2 linked regions of the Homo sapiens genome follow. The protein of the gene in region 2 interacts with the protein of the main gene of each other region in a pairwise test. Each region holds a gene or a part of one and is shown on either strand. Other genes may lie near its edges.

Region 1 (6,819 bases), on a different chromosome or scaffold from region 2:
TTTTTTTTTTAAGAGACAGAGTCTTACTTTGTCACCCAGGCTGGAGTACAGTGGCAAGATCATGGCTCACTACAGCCTCGACCTCCTGGGCTCCCGTGATTCTTCTGCCTCAGTCTCCCAAGTAGCTGGGACCACCGTGTCCAGTTAATTTTTTATTTTTTGTAGAGATAGTGTCTCGCTTTGTTGCCCAGGCTGGTCTCGAACTCCTGGCCTCAAGTGATCCTCCCACCTCAGCCTCCCAAAGCGCTGGGATAACTTACAGTTTACCTGTTCAGGGGAACTTTTAAGATTCAGGGGAGACACCTTGAGCCATGGAGACAGCAACAATGAGTGCAGCAGCCTGTAGTACTGTGAGACTCCCACTCCCATGTCAGCCAGAACTACACTGTTATCTGTGAGGTGTGAAGCTTTATATTTTATATTTTGAAGTTTCTGCCTAAGACTTAACAACACTGACATAGGTCGTGCTGGGGCAGCCTTACTCTTAGAATGAAGAGGGAGCAGTGTGAGAAAGCAAAGTGTGCATTTTTCCATGTATCACTTGGTAGAGCTGTAGACACAAACTGATCACTCAGCTTCAATTTCATTACAACTGCTGTTTCTATGCTTAAGTATGTGTGTCCCTTGATTTACATCAGAACCATGGATCCTAACCTCAACAGGCTGATCTAGATCAACCAGACAGCCAGGTCATAAATACATCCAGAGTACTCTATTACCTCCTTCCTTCCCTCTTTCCTTCTAAGGGAGAAGGTTATATACAGACAGGAAAAAAAGAGGACGTAGACTAGCTACGATAGCCCAGATACTATTAGGTACTTTATGTAAACAAATCACCTTTTATCCTCACAATAACCCTAGAGAGTAGGTGTTATTATCTATATGTGACAGACAGGATAACTTAAGCTTACAGAGAGGTCACGTCCCAGATTGCATAGCTTGTAAGTGATTGGTACCTGTTAACTAACTCCGAGGCTGCTGGCTCTTCCATTACAACACAGCCTTTATACCACCCTAAATATGTTGTGTTGAGGTTGCTATCTCCTTTAAGAAGGCTTAGGGTGACTGGTGTTAAAACTGTATGTAGACAGTAGCCAAGGCACTGGGATCCACACTGGACAGTGACGTAGGGAAAGGTTGGAGTAATATTGGTAACGTTAATGCTAATGAATGAGTGCCATATCTCTAGACCAGAGATTCAGCCACTAAGGGGAATGAAACTTAAACAGGGAGTCAGGAAACCTGGCTCTGGGCCTAGTTCTACCTATGTTAAGCCTTGGTTAGTCATTTTACTTCTCTAGAATCCACTTCTTCATCTGTTGGCAGAAATGATGCCTAAAATTCTGATTTCCATGCCTTCTATTTGGCCAGTTGACAACTTAAGGTAACATATTCCTTGTTTTTAAGGAGTTTAGCAGGAGAATGCATTCTGGTAGATTGCCATTTTTCTACAAAGCCTGCCTTTATTGGCCTTAGCAGGCTTCCACAGGGAGAGCTGTAATGGTAAGTTAGTCTACTCCTGTCTCTCTAGGGTCCTTCCCTCTGAAGTTGAAGTATTGGAGTCCATCTATCTAGATGAACTACAGGTGATTAAAGGAAATGGCAGGTATGTATTCAACCAGTGGTGGGCAGGAGTCCCCCTAGTAATGAGGAGAGGTTCTATGCTGAATTTGGGTCTTAAGACATTGTGAGCCTTGATTCAGAGATAATATTTCTCTTGTGTAGACAAAAGCTATTCCTTTAATCCTACCCCAAAAGAAAGAGTCCAATGTGTACTTCCTTTGCCCACTTCACTGTCTCAGCCCCATCCTCCCCAGCCCCCAAGCCCCTACCCAGTCACATCTGCGTGTCCACTTGATCCACCTGCAGAACTTCACCATGGGAGATCTACATCACTTTGCATCCTGCCACTGCAGAGGACCAGGATTCACAGTATGTCTGCTTCACTCTGGTGCTTCAGGTCCCAGCAGAGGTGAAGCCCCTACTGTGTGGCAGCAAAGGGAGGAAGGGGAGAGTCCCTGGGGTGGACCGCTTCAGCAGTAACTTGTTATTTGCCCCCACTAGTATCCCCATGAGGTGCCACAGATCTCTATCCGAAATCCCCGAGGACTTTCAGATGAACAGATCCACACGTAAGTTGAACCTGTCAGAACAGGGAAAACTCAGCTACAGCTTTGCCCGGTGACAGAAATGGGCAGGTCTAATATTTGGTTTGCCCTCTTCCTCCAGGATCTTACAGGTGCTGGGCCACGTGGCCAAGGCTGGGCTGGGCACTGCCATGCTGTATGAACTCATTGAGGTAAGAGGTGCGCTAGTCTGAGATATGTTCTTTCCTTCAAGCTAGAGCAGTTTCTAGCTGTAAAAGGGAAACCATGGGCCTAGAATCTTAAACGGATCTGGAGTCATTAGGTAAGGCCTAAATTAATCCAGAGAAATGAGACTCTTCTATTTGAAAAACTTCCCAAAAGACAGTTCAGTAGCTTCTCCAAGTTGCCTATGCCAGCATCTTGACAGAAAATGACTTTTCCTCTTCACCTTGAATTTTTCTTGCATCAGTTTCAGTATATGTCTTGTTCTCTTGGCACTGGCAACTGAAAGTGGCAAAAGATACGCATCTTGCTTGGGGGCGTCTTAGCCATAAATGAACATTTGAAGGCTAGACTGCCATTGGACCTGACTAGAAAAAGTCATGGTTGGCCAGGCACGGTGGCGGGCATTTGTAATCCCAGTTACTTGGGAGGCTGAGGAAGGAGAATCGCTTGAACCCGGGAGGCGGAGATTGCAGGGAGCCAAGATCATGCACTGCACTCCAGCCTGGGCAACAGAGTGAGACTCCATCTCAAAAAAAAAAAAAAGAAAAAGTCATGGTTCCTTTACTGAAAGAGCTTATACACTGCTTGATGAAACAACCCACATGAAGCAACACCTGAAGCTCCAATATACACAGAAAACTTTTATTGTTTGAGATTAAAAATATAAAATTAAGTACAGTTTTATTTTCCCCTAGTTTGTTTATTTATTAATTTTAATTTTTTTTTTTTTTTTGAGACAGTCTTAGTCTGTCACCCAGGCTGGAGTGCAGTGGTGTGATCTCAGCTCACTGCAACCTCCGCCTCCCAGGTTCAAGTGATTCTCCTGCCTCAGCCTCCCAGATAGCTAGGATCACAGGCATGTGCCACCACACCCAGCTAATTTTATATTTTTAGTAGAGATGGGGTTTCTCCATGTTGGCCAGGCTGGTCTTGAACTCCTGACCTCAGGTTATCCACCTGCCTCAGCCTCCCAAAGTGCTGGGATTATAGGCATGAGCCACCACGCCCAGCCTCTCTTAGTTTAAATTTTTAAGAAAAATGTTCAGAATAGAATGAAGGTGGGTGGCTGAGAGTCAAAGAGAGTGGGTTTGATAGGCCACCGTAGCAGTCCTAGGTCAGGCCTCCACAATGCAGCCTTGGACTTTGTGGAATTCCAGAGTACACTATTAGCTATTCAAATAACAATTCAAATGCATAGTTCACAGCCCAACTCAATGCCTTGTGAATTCTCTGTCCATTTGGGTTGTCCATGCCTTGTCATGCTTTCTGAAAGCTGACTTAGAACAAACACATTGCCCCATGGGGGAGTGATATTGAAGGGGGCTAATCAAGAAAGGCCTCCCAGAAGATAAATTTTAATTGAACATTTTTTTTCTCAAGGTGTATTATTTTCATCTCCAAGATATATTAAAAGTGACTTAATGAAAGGAAAAACAATTAGGTTGAATTTTGAAACCAGGAAGATCAAATTTTGGGGGAGGGGCAGAGATGTGGAGAAGGATTGATTCCCAGCAGAGGGAGCGTCACCAAGCCAGAAATGCATAAACACAAGGTAACAAACTGGCCTGCTAGGAGCCAAGTCTAGCCAGTCACTCCTAGGAGTAGTAGACAGGCCTTGCTCACCGTTCTTCCCCCTACCCCCGTTTAATCAGTGTCTTCTCTCCTCAGAAAGGGAAGGAAATTCTCACAGATAACAACATCCCTCATGGCCAGTGTGTCATCTGCCTCTATGGTTTCCAGGTGGGTTTCTCTCTTGGGACCTGGCATTCTGTTTGGGACCAGCAGATGAGGGCTGTGAGAGAGCTCTGACTTAGTGCCCTACATCTGCCTTCCCTCTAGGAGAAGGAGGCCTTTACCAAAACACCCTGTTACCACTACTTCCACTGCCACTGCCTTGCTCGGTACATCCAGCACATGGAGCAAGAGCTGAAGGCACAAGGACAGGAGCAGGAACAGGAACGGCAGCATGCTACAACCAAACAGGTAGACCTCACTGCACCTGCACACTCATCTGACACCCTTAGGCACAGCCTTTCACAAACTTTTCCATCTCTCCACTCCAGTGGCTCTTCACTTTTTCAGGGTCATAGATACCCTTGAGATTAATGAACTCTTACCTCTGTCCAGAATAAAGGGCATCCTTTTTTTTTTTTTTTGAGATGGAGTCTCACTCTGCCACCCAGGCTGGAGTGCAGTAGCACAATCTTGGCTCACTGCAACCTCCGCCTCCTGGGTTCAAGCAATCCTTCTGCCTCAGCCTCCCGAGTAGCTGGGATTATAGGTGCGAGCCACCACGCCCAGCTGATTTTTGTATTTTCAGTAGAGACGGGGTTTCACCATGTTGGCCAGGCTGGTCTCAAACTCATGACCTCAAGTGATCCCGCCCGCCTCGGCCTCCCAAAGTGCTGGGATTACAGGCGCGAGCCACCGTGCCTGGCCAGGGCATCCTTATATACACTTACATATTGCATGCAGTTTCGGGGGGTTCCCAGATCTCTAGTTAGACAACCCGTGCTCTGTCCCAACTCACTGCTGAACCGGTGTCCCTGTGCCCTTTAGTCCCAGCCCTCTGCAGATTAGGTTGGCTGATGGGTCAGCACCAGGGGGCATCCTGGGCTGTGACACAGGCATATGATTTTTCTCTTTTTTAGAAGGCAGTCGGTGTGCAGTGTCCAGTGTGCAGAGAGCCCCTCGTGTATGATCTTGCCTCACTGAAAGCAGCCCCTGAACCCCAACAGCCCATGGTAAGGAGACTTTTTTCCAATCTGAGCCAGGAGTAATGGTATTTTCTAAAGAGTAAGGAATGGCATCTTGTCTGTGTCAAATGGGATCTCTGAAATTGGGCTTGAACTGCCTAGGACCTCTCTGCAAAGCCACATCCCCCACTGGCGGGAGCCTAAGACTCTGGGAGCCCAGACCTGAGGGGCAAAACCAGTGCAGATCTCCTGAGGCAGCCTGGGAGGAGTAGAGGTTTGAGTCAGCCTTCTGCTGTTCATTATTTCCTCTCTGCCATTCTTCCTTCCAGGAGCTGTACCAGCCCAGTGCAGAGAGCTTGCGCCAGCAAGAAGAACGCAAGCGGCTCTACCAGAGGCAGCAGGAGCGGGGGGGAATCATTGACCTTGAGGCTGAGCGAAACCGATACTTCATCAGCCTTCAGCAGGTGAGGGAAGGGCTTCCCAGTTGTCCTGTAATGCCACCAACCTTTCTACAAACCCCAATCAGCCATGGCCCCAGAGTGAGCTTTGTTCTAACCAGGAAGATGATAGGCTGATCGTGGTCAGCCCAGATAGTAGGAGAGGGGCCTGTAGTTCCCCACCTTGAGGAACTGCATCTCCCTCACTGCATCTTGTCACTTATTTCTAGCCTCCTGCCCCTGCGGAACCTGAGTCAGCTGTAGATGTCTCCAAAGGATCCCAACCACCCAGCACCCTTGCAGCAGAACTATCCACCTCACCAGCCGTCCAATCCACTTTGCCACCTCCTCTGCCTGTGGCGACCCAGCACATATGTGAGAAGATTCCAGGGACCAGGTCAAATCAGCAAAGGTTGGGCGAAACCCAGAAAGCTATGCTAGATCCCCCCAAGCCCAGTCGAGGTCCCTGGCGACAGCCCGAACGGAGGCACCCAAAGGGAGGGGAGTGCCACGCCCCTAAAGGTACCCGTGACACCCAGGAACTGCCACCTCCTGAGGGGCCCCTCAAGGAGCCCATGGACCTAAAGCCAGAACCCCATAGCCAAGGAGTTGAAGGTCCTCCACAAGAGAAGGGGCCTGGCAGCTGGCAGGGGCCCCCACCCCGCAGGACTCGGGACTGTGTTCGCTGGGAGCGCTCTAAAGGCCGGACACCCGGTTCTTCCTACCCTCGCCTGCCTCGGGGCCAGGGAGCATACCGGCCTGGTACTCGGAGGGAGTCCCTGGGCCTGGAATCTAAGGATGGTTCCTAGCAGGACTTGGTGGGGGGAACAGGGAATTGGGGATGGGAGGGAGGCAATAAAGATATTTGGCCTTCTTTGGCTTTCTTTGCTTAGCAGCGCCTAGCCTGTGAGGAATGGCTCTTTTTCTCAATTCCTAATAAGATTGGGGTGTGGCAGAGCAGCCCCCAACTTTGCTCTGAAGTCTGTTCTCCGAAGAGCTGGGTAAAGAGGGTCTGACATCTCATCAGCTAGTATAGTGAGTTTCAGGGAAAACTAGTGGGATGTCAGCATGTAAGCAGAGTCCTTAGGACCCACCGTTAACAACTCATTGTGTACACACCCATGCCTGTCCATTATTTATATACATAGAATGCCTTTAGGTAGAGGAATTTAGTTTCCTGTTTTGTGTCTCATCTCTTTATCTTAGGCTATGCCCCATCATTTGTATATGTGGTTGCCTGACTGACCCCTGTAGGCACCTGTGATTGCAGCCCGTCTTACTCAAGTACCAATCCAGTGATGAAGGGAGATGAGAGAGCAGAGTAGTGTGGCAGATGTTTATTGAGCTAGAGGAGGAGAGCTGAGCTGAGCCCAG
Region 2 (9,417 bases):
TCCCAGGCTCAAGCGATCCTCCTACCTCAGCCTGTGCAGCTGGGACTGCAAGCACGTGTTACCATGCCCAGCTAATTTTTTTTTTTCTCTATAGAAACGAGGTCTCATTATGTTGTCCAGGTGGTCTCAAACTCCTGAACTCAAGCGATCCTCCCACCTGGGCCTTCCAAGTGCTGGGATTACAGGCATGAGCCACTGAGCCTGGCCTGTCTCCAGTTCTTTCTGCCCATCCTTGACATTTCTGAGGCCCAGGAGTGGCCTCTCTTTGTCAACATTCACAGTGAGTCATGACAGGAGTTTCTTTCCTGCCGAGTTACAGAGATTCTGGGTTCATGATGAGGCAGGAAAAACAAGGCCTGAACAGCCATCTTCTTCCAGGCAGAATCACAGCACAGAAGATAGGCAGACCTGGCCGGGCGCGGTGGCTCACGCCTGTAATCCCAGCACTTTGGGAGGCTGAGGTGGGTGGATCATTTGAGGTCAGGAGCTTGAGACCAGCCTGGCCAACGTGGTGAAACCCCGTCTCTACTAAAAATACAAAAATTAGCCGGGCATGGTGGCACGCACCTGAAATCCCAGCTACTCAGGAGGCTGAGGCAGGAGAATCACTTGAACCTGGGAGGCAGAGGTCGCAGTGAGCCAGGATCACGCCACTGCACTCCAAACTGGGTGACAGAGCGAGACTCTATCTCAAAAAAAAAAAATAGGCCTAGTGGTGTGGTTTCTGTGGGTGGTGGCTCTATCCAGACTGCCCACCCAGGCTTAGATTCTAACTCCTCCACCACTTAGCCCTGGTTGGCATCCTCACCCTTCAAAATTCAGAAACACTTGGGAAGGAAAATTATGAGCTTTTCACACTTCTAAGTAGTAGTAGTAAATCTGTAACTTACTAAATCTGGCGACTTATTGGGGTCTGGCACAATGACTGTAACTTTACATCTATTGGCCCTATGAAGAAGTGTTCTTCCCCCCTCTTTTAAAATACAAATATTTTTAAAATTTTCAAGCTTACATAAAAGCTTAAAGTACAACCCTTAACCTAGATACGCCAAATCACAATTTGCCAATTGTGCTTTTACACAAACACACACTTTTTTGGCCCAATTATTTAAAAGTAAGTTACAGATATGTTGATTGACGTTTGACCCCTAAATTCTTCAACATGTATCCCCTAATAAGGGCGTTCTACTACATAGCCATAATACATTATATGTAATAAGCAAGAAGTCAGTATTACCCAATGTAATAGTTATTCAAAATTTTCTGCCAGGTGCAATGGGTCATGTCTATAACCCCAGCACTTTGGGAAGCAAAGGCAGACAGATTGCTTGAGCCCAGGAGTTCAAGGCCAGCCTGGGCAACATAGTGAAACCCCATCTCTACAAAAACTACAAAATTTAGCATGGTGTGGTAGCGTGCACCTGTAGTCCCAGCTACTTGGGAAAATCACCTGAGCCTGGGGATGTCAAGGCTGCAGTGAACCATGATCGCGCCACTGCACTCCAGCCTGGGCGACAGAGTGAGACCCTGTCTCAAGAAAAAAAAAATTCTAATTGCCCAAAAATACCTTATATAGTTTCTGGTTTTTAAAATCAGATCCAGTCAAGATGTACATATTGCATCCTATTATATCTCTTTTATCAACTCATTTAATCTAAATAGAGCCCCTTGGCATGGTAGCTCATGTCTGTAATCCCAACATTTTGGGAGGCTGAGGTGGGCAGATCACTTGAGGTCAGGAGTTCGAGACCAGCCTGGCCAACATGGTGATACCCCATCTCAAGTAAAAATACAAAAATTAGCCGGACATGGTGGTGTGTGCCTATACTCCCAGCTACTCAGGAGGCTGAGGCAAGAGAATTGCTTGAACTCAGGAGGTGGAGGTTGCAGTGAGCCGAGATTGTGCCACTGCACTCCAGCCTGGGCAACAGAGTGTGACTCTATCTCAAATAAATAAATAAATAAATAAATAGAGCTTCTCCACCTATTTAAATATGTTTGATTGGTTTATCAATGATTAGATTGGGGTTAGATTTAAGTTTTTGGCAATGTGTGTACTTACTGCATGTCAGGAGGATATGATGTCAGGGTCTTACTATCCATGAATGCTAAATTTGATTATTAAGGTCATGGCAACCTGATCTCTCTATCGTAAAGGTAAATTTTTCTCTCTTACAATTAATAAGTAATCTGTGAAGTGATTCTCTGAGTCTGTTATAATTATGTGTTCCTGATAACCTTTCACACCACATCCTTGGATGATCCTTGCTTGAATTACAACACTGAGGGTTGCAAATTGGTAATTTTCTAATTCTGCCATTCCTTCTGTGTTTATTAGTGTTCTTTTTTATAGAATTAATTTTTCCTGGCCGGGTGCGGTGGCTCACGCCTGTAATCCCAGCACTTTGGGAGGCCGAGGCGGGCGGATCACGAGGTCAGGAGATCGAGACCATCCTGGCTAACAAGGTGAAACCCTGTCTCCACTAAAAATACAAAAAATTAGCCGAGCGAGGTGGCGGGCGCCTGTAGTCTCAGCTACTCGGGAGGCTGAGGCAGGAGAATGGCGTGAACCCTGGGAGGCGGAGGTTGCAGTGAGCCGAAATCACACCACTGCACTCCAGCCTGGGCGACAGTGAGACTCCGTCTCAAAAAAAAAAAAAAAGAATTAATTTTTCCTGTCTCTATCTTTCTCACTCCCTTCTTCTCACCCTCTTTTTTCTTTTGGGAATAACATTATGGACTCTTGTTTTTTGTTTGTTTGTTTTTGAGATGGAGTCTCACTCTGTTGCCCTGGCTGGTGTGCAGTGGCACGATCTTGGCTCACTGCAACCTCCACTTCCCAGATTCAAGCGATTCTCCTGCCTCAGCCTCCCAAGTAGCTGGAATAACAGGCGCACGCCACCCCGCCCAGCTATTTTTTGTATTTTTAGTAGAGATGGGGTTTTGCCATGTTAGCCAGGCTGGTCTTGAACTCCAGACCTCAGGTGATCCGCCCGCCTCGGCCTCCCAAAGTGCTGAGATTACAGGCATGAACTACCGCACCCAGCCTGGACTCTTGTTTTGTTGTTGTTGTTTTTTAATTCACTGGGCTATATGAACTCACCTTGAACTTTTCCTGTGAAAGTCCAGGAATCATCAGTTTCTCCAGGAAGCCCTGGTTTCTTTTAGAAGAGATGATGACATTCAGAAACAAAGATCCAGGGCTAGGTGTGTTTATTGCTACTGGGTGTCATTTCTAGGCTCTGTGAGTGAGCAGAGCTAGGAAATGATGGATAGGTGATTGATAGATAGATGATAGATGGACAATTTTCATTACTCAGTACATTTATTGTTACAACAGCTAGTCCCCACTGACAGGATTGCATGGTAAGTCATTTCATTATGGAAGTAATGCTCATTATGGAAGTGGACAGTAATGTAGGAAAAAAGGAAATTGCACAGAAAAGAGCTCTTGCCTACTCCAGGTCGCCATGAGTATACAGACTGTTGGCTAGGACCTCTGTGGCTGGGTTCAGCTTCCTGCCGAAGACGTCTAAAGGACTGGTTCTCTGAAGGGTGTCCAAACCAGAACTTCCCAGAGGCCATGACTCTGAGGTCAAGAATCCACATGAAGCCCTGGGCAAGGGATTCACGCTCTTTGGGTCTGCTTTAGGTTGTCTTTGAAACAAAGACAATGTAATCGGTCCTGCCTGGGTCCCAGAGTTGTAAGGATCAATATATTTATCAATATGTTTATTTTTAAACATTGCTAGTTGTGTCTCTTCACATTTATTACCAAATTCCTTCTCTTCTCATTGTTTTAAAACCACAGAGGGAAATGTCATTGCTTTATAATCTAGTTTAATACATTGCGCTAAGATGTCTTATTCAAATACTCTTTCAGGTTATCAGTCATCAGTGCTTCCAGATTAAAATTTTAATTATTTAAATCTTTTTTGAAAAATACTATTGGGATTTGGATTAGGATAGCATAACAACTATAATTAATTTTGAGGGGGGGGGGGTGCTTTGGGATAAGGCCTGGCTCTGTCACCCAAACCAGAGTGCAGTGGCACAGTCTTGGCTCACTGCAACCTCCACCTACTGGGACAAAACCAATTATTAAAATAGAAGAAGTTCCTATAGCTATTATCACTTGGGAAATTACACAGTTTTTAGCCCTGGCCAACAGCTGGGGACAAATCTAAAATGTATATTGCTTATTATATCACAGTATCACACAACCCCTCCCCTGAGTGCAAGGCGGTGACTATGCAGACGTGAGACATGCAGTTGCTCTCAGCTCACAAACTAGGCAGTGGTTTCCAAAAAAAATTGTTTTGTCAGCCACAGTATGAAGATACCATGATCCAGTTCATAGACACACAACTGAAACAAAAGTTTCACAACAATATATAATTGGTTACAACCCACTTAACTGTATTGATGTCATGACTTGCCAATAGGTCACAACCTTCATTTTTTTTCCTGTTTATGGAGGTAAAACTTAAGTATGGTAAAATTTACACTTTTTTTTTAATTGAGACAGGGGTCTTACTATGTTTTCCAGGCTGGTCTTGAACTCCTGGGCTCAAGTGACCCTCCTGCCTCGGCCTCTCAAAGTACTGGGATTATAGGCATGAACCACCACAGCTGGCCACAATTCACCCTTTTAGATGTGTATGGTTACATGAATTTTGACAGTCTTTATAAACACATTTGACCACCACCACATCATATTACTTTTGTGCCAACCTAATAGAATATTCCCATCACTCCAAAATATGCCTTGTGTTTCTTTGTAACCAGTCTTTTCCCTCCAACCCAGCCCCAAGAATTCACTTAATCTGATTTCTGTCTTTATAGTTTTGCCTTTGCCAGAACGTTATACAGATAGAGTCATGTACCATGTAACCTTCTGAGGCTGGCTTCTTTCACTTGACGTAATGCTTTTGAAATTCATGTATGTGGTAATGTCTTTTAGTAGTTCCTATATATTGCTGAGTCATATTCTATTGTATGGATGTACTGCAATTTATCTGTTTACAATTAGTTGTTTCTGAGTTTGGGCAATTATGAATAAGCTGCCATAAACATTCACATATGAGTCTTTGCATGGACATATGTCTCCATTTCTCCGGCATAAATACCTAGGAGTAGGGTCATTGGGTCACGTGATAATTGTATGCTGTATTAGTCCATTCTCACACTGCTAATAACAACATACCCCAGACTGGCTAATTTACAAAGGAAAGAGGTTTAATTGACTCACGGTTCCACAGGACTAGGGAGGCCTCAGGAAACTTAAAATAATGGTGGAAGGGGAAGCAAACATGTCTTTCTTCACATGGCAGCAGCAAGGAGAAGTGCCAAGCGAAGGGGGAAACCCCTTATAAAACCATCAGATCTCTTAAGAACTCACTATCACAAGAACAGCATGAGGAAAACCGCCCCAATGATTCAATCATCTCCACCTAGTCCTGCCCTTGACACATGGGGATTATTACAATTCAAGGTGAGATTTGGGTGGGGACACAGAGCCAAACCATACCATATGTCAAACTATTTTCAACAGCGGTTACCATTTGTCAGCAGTGTATGAGGTTTCCATTGTTCTATGTACTCACCTTCAATTGGCATTGTCAGTTTTTATATGAGCCACTAATAGGTATATAGTAGCATATAATTGTGGTTTCAATTTTCATACTCTCATGACTGATGATATTGACCATCTTTTCATGTGATTGTCAGTCATCTGCATATCTTCTTTGCTGGAGTATTTGTTAGATCTTTTGTCTAGTTGTTTTGTTTTTGTTTTTGTTTAAGTAGAGATAGGGTTTCACCATGTCGGCCAGGCTGTTCTTGAACTCCTGGCCTCAAGTGATCTGCCCGCCTCAGCCTCCCAAAGTGCTGGGATTACAGGCATGTGCCACTGCACCCAGCTTTATGTGTTTTTTAATTGGGTTATTTTCTTACTGAGTTTTGAGAGTTCTTTATATATTCTGGTTAACAATCCTTTATCAGATAGGTGTTTTGCAAATATTTTCTCCATCTGTGTCTTATTCTTTCATTTTCTTAACAGTGTCTTTTGAAGAGCAGAAGTTTTTTACGTGGATGAAGTCTAGTTTATTGATGTTTTTAATGGTTTGTCCCTTTTAGGTCCTATCCAAGAAATCTTTGCCTAATCCACAGTTGCAAAGATTTTCTCCTAGAAGTTGTGTAGTTTTAGATTTTATATTTAGGTCTATGATATGTTCTGAGTTTATTTTTCATAAACAGCATAAGAGATGGACCAAGGTTCTTTTTTTCCCCATATGGATGTCCACTGATCTGCATTTTGAGATAGCCAGGGAAGAGGGCCATGTGCAAAGGAGATCGCTGCAGGTGGAATGCTGGGTGCTGCCAGAGGGGGTTGTGCAAGGCACCAGGAAGCCCTGAGAGGAGAGCTGTTAACCTAGTGGAGATCTGGGGACAGTAGTACAGAGGTGATGACTCATAGGCTGGGCCTGAAAGGTAGACAGCAGAGAGGGTAGAGAAGGTAGACAGGGGTGGTCTAGGGACAGCAAAGGCAGGGCAGGTGTCAGCATGAAGGAGACTGACTCAGTGGCGTCTGGCGTGCGTGGAGGGCAGGGTTAGACATGAGAGGGAAAGAGGAAGGTGGTTGGGCAGGGACGGTACTTCAGGAAGGTCAGTCTGCAGACCAGAAAGGAAGGTGGACAGAAGGCAGGGAGCCGAGTGAGGATGTAGGGGTGCAGGGGGCAGGGATGAGGCCTGAGCTCTGGGAGTAGCTATAGGGATGGGTTCAAGGAGATAGTCAAGACAAACTGTAGGGCTGAAGAGTCGGGGCTGCTTCCCTCAGGCAGTTGGGTGGCTCAGAAGAGTTCACAGCAGAGTTAGGGGCAGAGGAAGGCACAGGTGAGGCTTCTGGTACCTGTGTTACTGGTGGAGGGTCTTGACTAGGAATTTTCCAGGTCCTTGGCGTTTTGAACAAAGTAGCAGAGGGGCAGACGTGGTAATCCCCACACTTTGGGAGGCCTGGATGGGCAGATCACTTGAGGTCAGTCCAAGACCGGCCTGGCCAACGTGGTGAAACCCGTCTCTACTAAAAAAAAAAAAAGTAAAAATAAAAAGAGTAGCAGGGGAATGAAATGCAGGAATGAAGCAGTGAAAGCAGGAATTAAAGTGAGAAAGCACTCCTCAGGGTGGGAGTGGGCCGGAGCAAGGAACTCAAAGGCCCAGTTACAAAGTTCTCTGGGCTTTAGGTACCCCATTTGAGGTTCTTATCAGCTACTCCTTATCTGGACGAAGGATTTAGTCTGTGGCTAATTAAAGGCTGAGGTGAATGGGCACCCTATGCAGATAAAGGGATGGTCCCAATCCAAGGCCCCCCTCCCTTTCCACCTGAGACATGGTGGAGTGGGAGGGTTGCAAAGAGGAGCGTTTGATCCTTTGTCACCCAGCTGGGGCGATGGCGTTTTTCCTCTTGGTTCAGCTTTAGGAATTTGGTGTTAATTGGTCTTAGGGTCCCTGCCCCCAGACCCAGGATTTTCCTTCTGATCCAGCTTTGGGAAGTCAACAGAATTGGCCTCAGATTTTTTGCCCCAGACCTTGGTGTTTTCTCTTTTATGAAGTTAGCACAAATTGGCCTTAAGTTCCTTGTCTCCAAACCTTGTTCTCCTGCCTCACTTGCAGAATATCCAAGTGGAGGTGGCCAGGAGGCATCTGGGAACACATAGGGGACTGAGGCTCAGTGGTGTTAGTTCATTACTACCTGACTGCAAACCTCCGCCGACTCATGAAACTCCCCTCGTGTCATGTCATTTTGCCTTTTGTAGCAGGGCCGTGGATTTGTGATGATGGACACTGTGGCCCTGTGGCTAGAAAATAGGGGCTTAGACCAGGCACGGTGGCTCACGCCTGTAATCCCAGCACTTTGGGAGGCCGAGGCGGGCAGATCACAAAGTCAAGAGATCGAGACCATCCTGGCCAACATGGTGAAATCCCATCTCTACTAAAAATACAAAAATAAATTAGCCGGGCCTGGTGGCGTGCACCTGTAATTGCAGCTACCCGGGAGGCTGAGGCAGGAGTGTCGCTTGAATCTGGGAGGCAGAGGTTGCAGTGAGCTGAGATTGCGTCACTGCACTCTAGCCTGGCGACAGAGCGAGACTCCATCTCAAAAAAAAAAAAAGAAAAGAAGGGCTTAGAGGACTGAGCTCTGTGACTGGATAGGTAAGGGGAGATCACCACAGAGAGCACCCTAGACTCGGAGCAGGAGACCTGCCTGCTAGCCAGCCTCTGCCCTGACTGCCTGTGCAACTGTGCTGCTCTCCCCAGACAAATGACCGGGAGCCATGACGTCATCGGGGGCGCAGGAAAGCAGGTGCTCTGCTGCTTTTGCAAGCAGAGAAATAAGAGTTTGGGCACCTACCCAGGGGTCCCAGGGAATGCCCTGTGGCTCCTGACCTCCCCCGCCTGTAATGCTCTGAGCACTTCAGCAGTAATGCATGGAAGAGATAAGGGTCTGTGACCCATGGAACTGTCCAAGTCCTCTCTGACACCCGCTTCTTTTCCTGCCGTGAAGGTAAGCCACTTTATAGATCCTAGGCCTGAAACCCAATGTTGGGAGGGAGTGTTTGTTTTCAAGAAGAAAGAGAGACTGAAACTAGAACATGCACATTTCTATCCAGAAGAAAACAGTTGGAGTAGACTAGAGTCCTACAAAGAGGGCAACAGGGAAGAAGATTCTGGACTGAGTAAAGGGGACCCACTCCTGGGTCCACCTCCTGCCTGGGCCCTCTGGAGAGAGAATTGGCCAGATTCAGCCCTGAGTCACAGCACCCTCCCCAGTTGCTGCCTCACAGCCATCTCCACACCAGCAGCCATGCCCCCAGCGGCAGCTCGCCCACACCTCTGTGGGACCTCCCCACCGTCTCGCAGCCCATCTGCTCCAGGCTTCTACTGACGATTTCGTATTTCACATGGACTCATTTCTCCTCAGACACTCCAGATGGGGAATGCCTTTCTGCAATATCAAAGTGCCCCATTAGACTGGGGAGGAATCATGAGGGGACATACCCCTGCCCCTGCCACAGAGTCGAGCATGGCAGCTGAATATCTCTCACACTGGCATGGCCCCCATCCTCTGGAGAAAGGAGGCCTCAGTGCAGTCAGCCTCTTCAGGAGGCAGAAATGTTGAGAAGTTCTCGCCACCCCTGCTGGGTGACTTTGGGGAGGTGTCTCCTCAGACCTCTGTTTCTCCATCTGGACGGTAAGCATGCTTGAAAGGTTGGGTTTTTGTTTGTTTTTTGAGACCGGATCTCCCTCTGTCTGCCAGGCTGGAGTTCTGTGGCGTAATCACGGCTCACTGCAGCCTCAACCTCCCAGACTCAAGCGATCCTCCCACCTCAGCCTCCCAAGTAGTTGGGACTACAGGTG

The links. The genes of interacting proteins can lie anywhere in the genome.
Region 1: the proteins of KCTD21 (region 2) and RNF25 interact in binary tests that used the Homo sapiens proteins (3 or more experiments, as listed by UniProt).

The regions. Positions count from the first base shown.
Region 1 is NC_000002.12:218,663,392-218,670,210, reverse strand, and holds the end of RNF25 (E3 ubiquitin-protein ligase RNF25), read left to right. Parts: intron 1-1,531; coding exon 1,532-1,606; intron 1,607-1,869; coding exon 1,870-1,972; intron 1,973-2,064; coding exon 2,065-2,132; intron 2,133-2,229; coding exon 2,230-2,299; intron 2,300-3,980; coding exon 3,981-4,052; intron 4,053-4,151; coding exon 4,152-4,295; intron 4,296-4,963; coding exon 4,964-5,056; intron 5,057-5,337; coding exon 5,338-5,472; intron 5,473-5,675; coding exon 5,676-6,254; 3' UTR 6,255-6,319; downstream 6,320-6,819. UniProt on the Homo sapiens protein: E3 ubiquitin-protein ligase that plays a key role in the RNF14-RNF25 translation quality control pathway, a pathway that takes place when a ribosome has stalled during translation, and which promotes ubiquitination and degradation of translation factors on stalled ribosomes.
Region 2 is NC_000011.10:78,176,885-78,186,301, reverse strand, and holds part of KCTD21 (BTB/POZ domain-containing protein KCTD21), read left to right. Parts: intron 1-8,316; exon of another isoform or gene 8,317-9,171; coding exon of another isoform or gene 9,172-9,250; intron 9,251-9,417. UniProt on the Homo sapiens protein: Probable substrate-specific adapter of a BCR (BTB-CUL3-RBX1) E3 ubiquitin-protein ligase complex mediating the ubiquitination and subsequent proteasomal degradation of target proteins. Promotes the ubiquitination of HDAC1.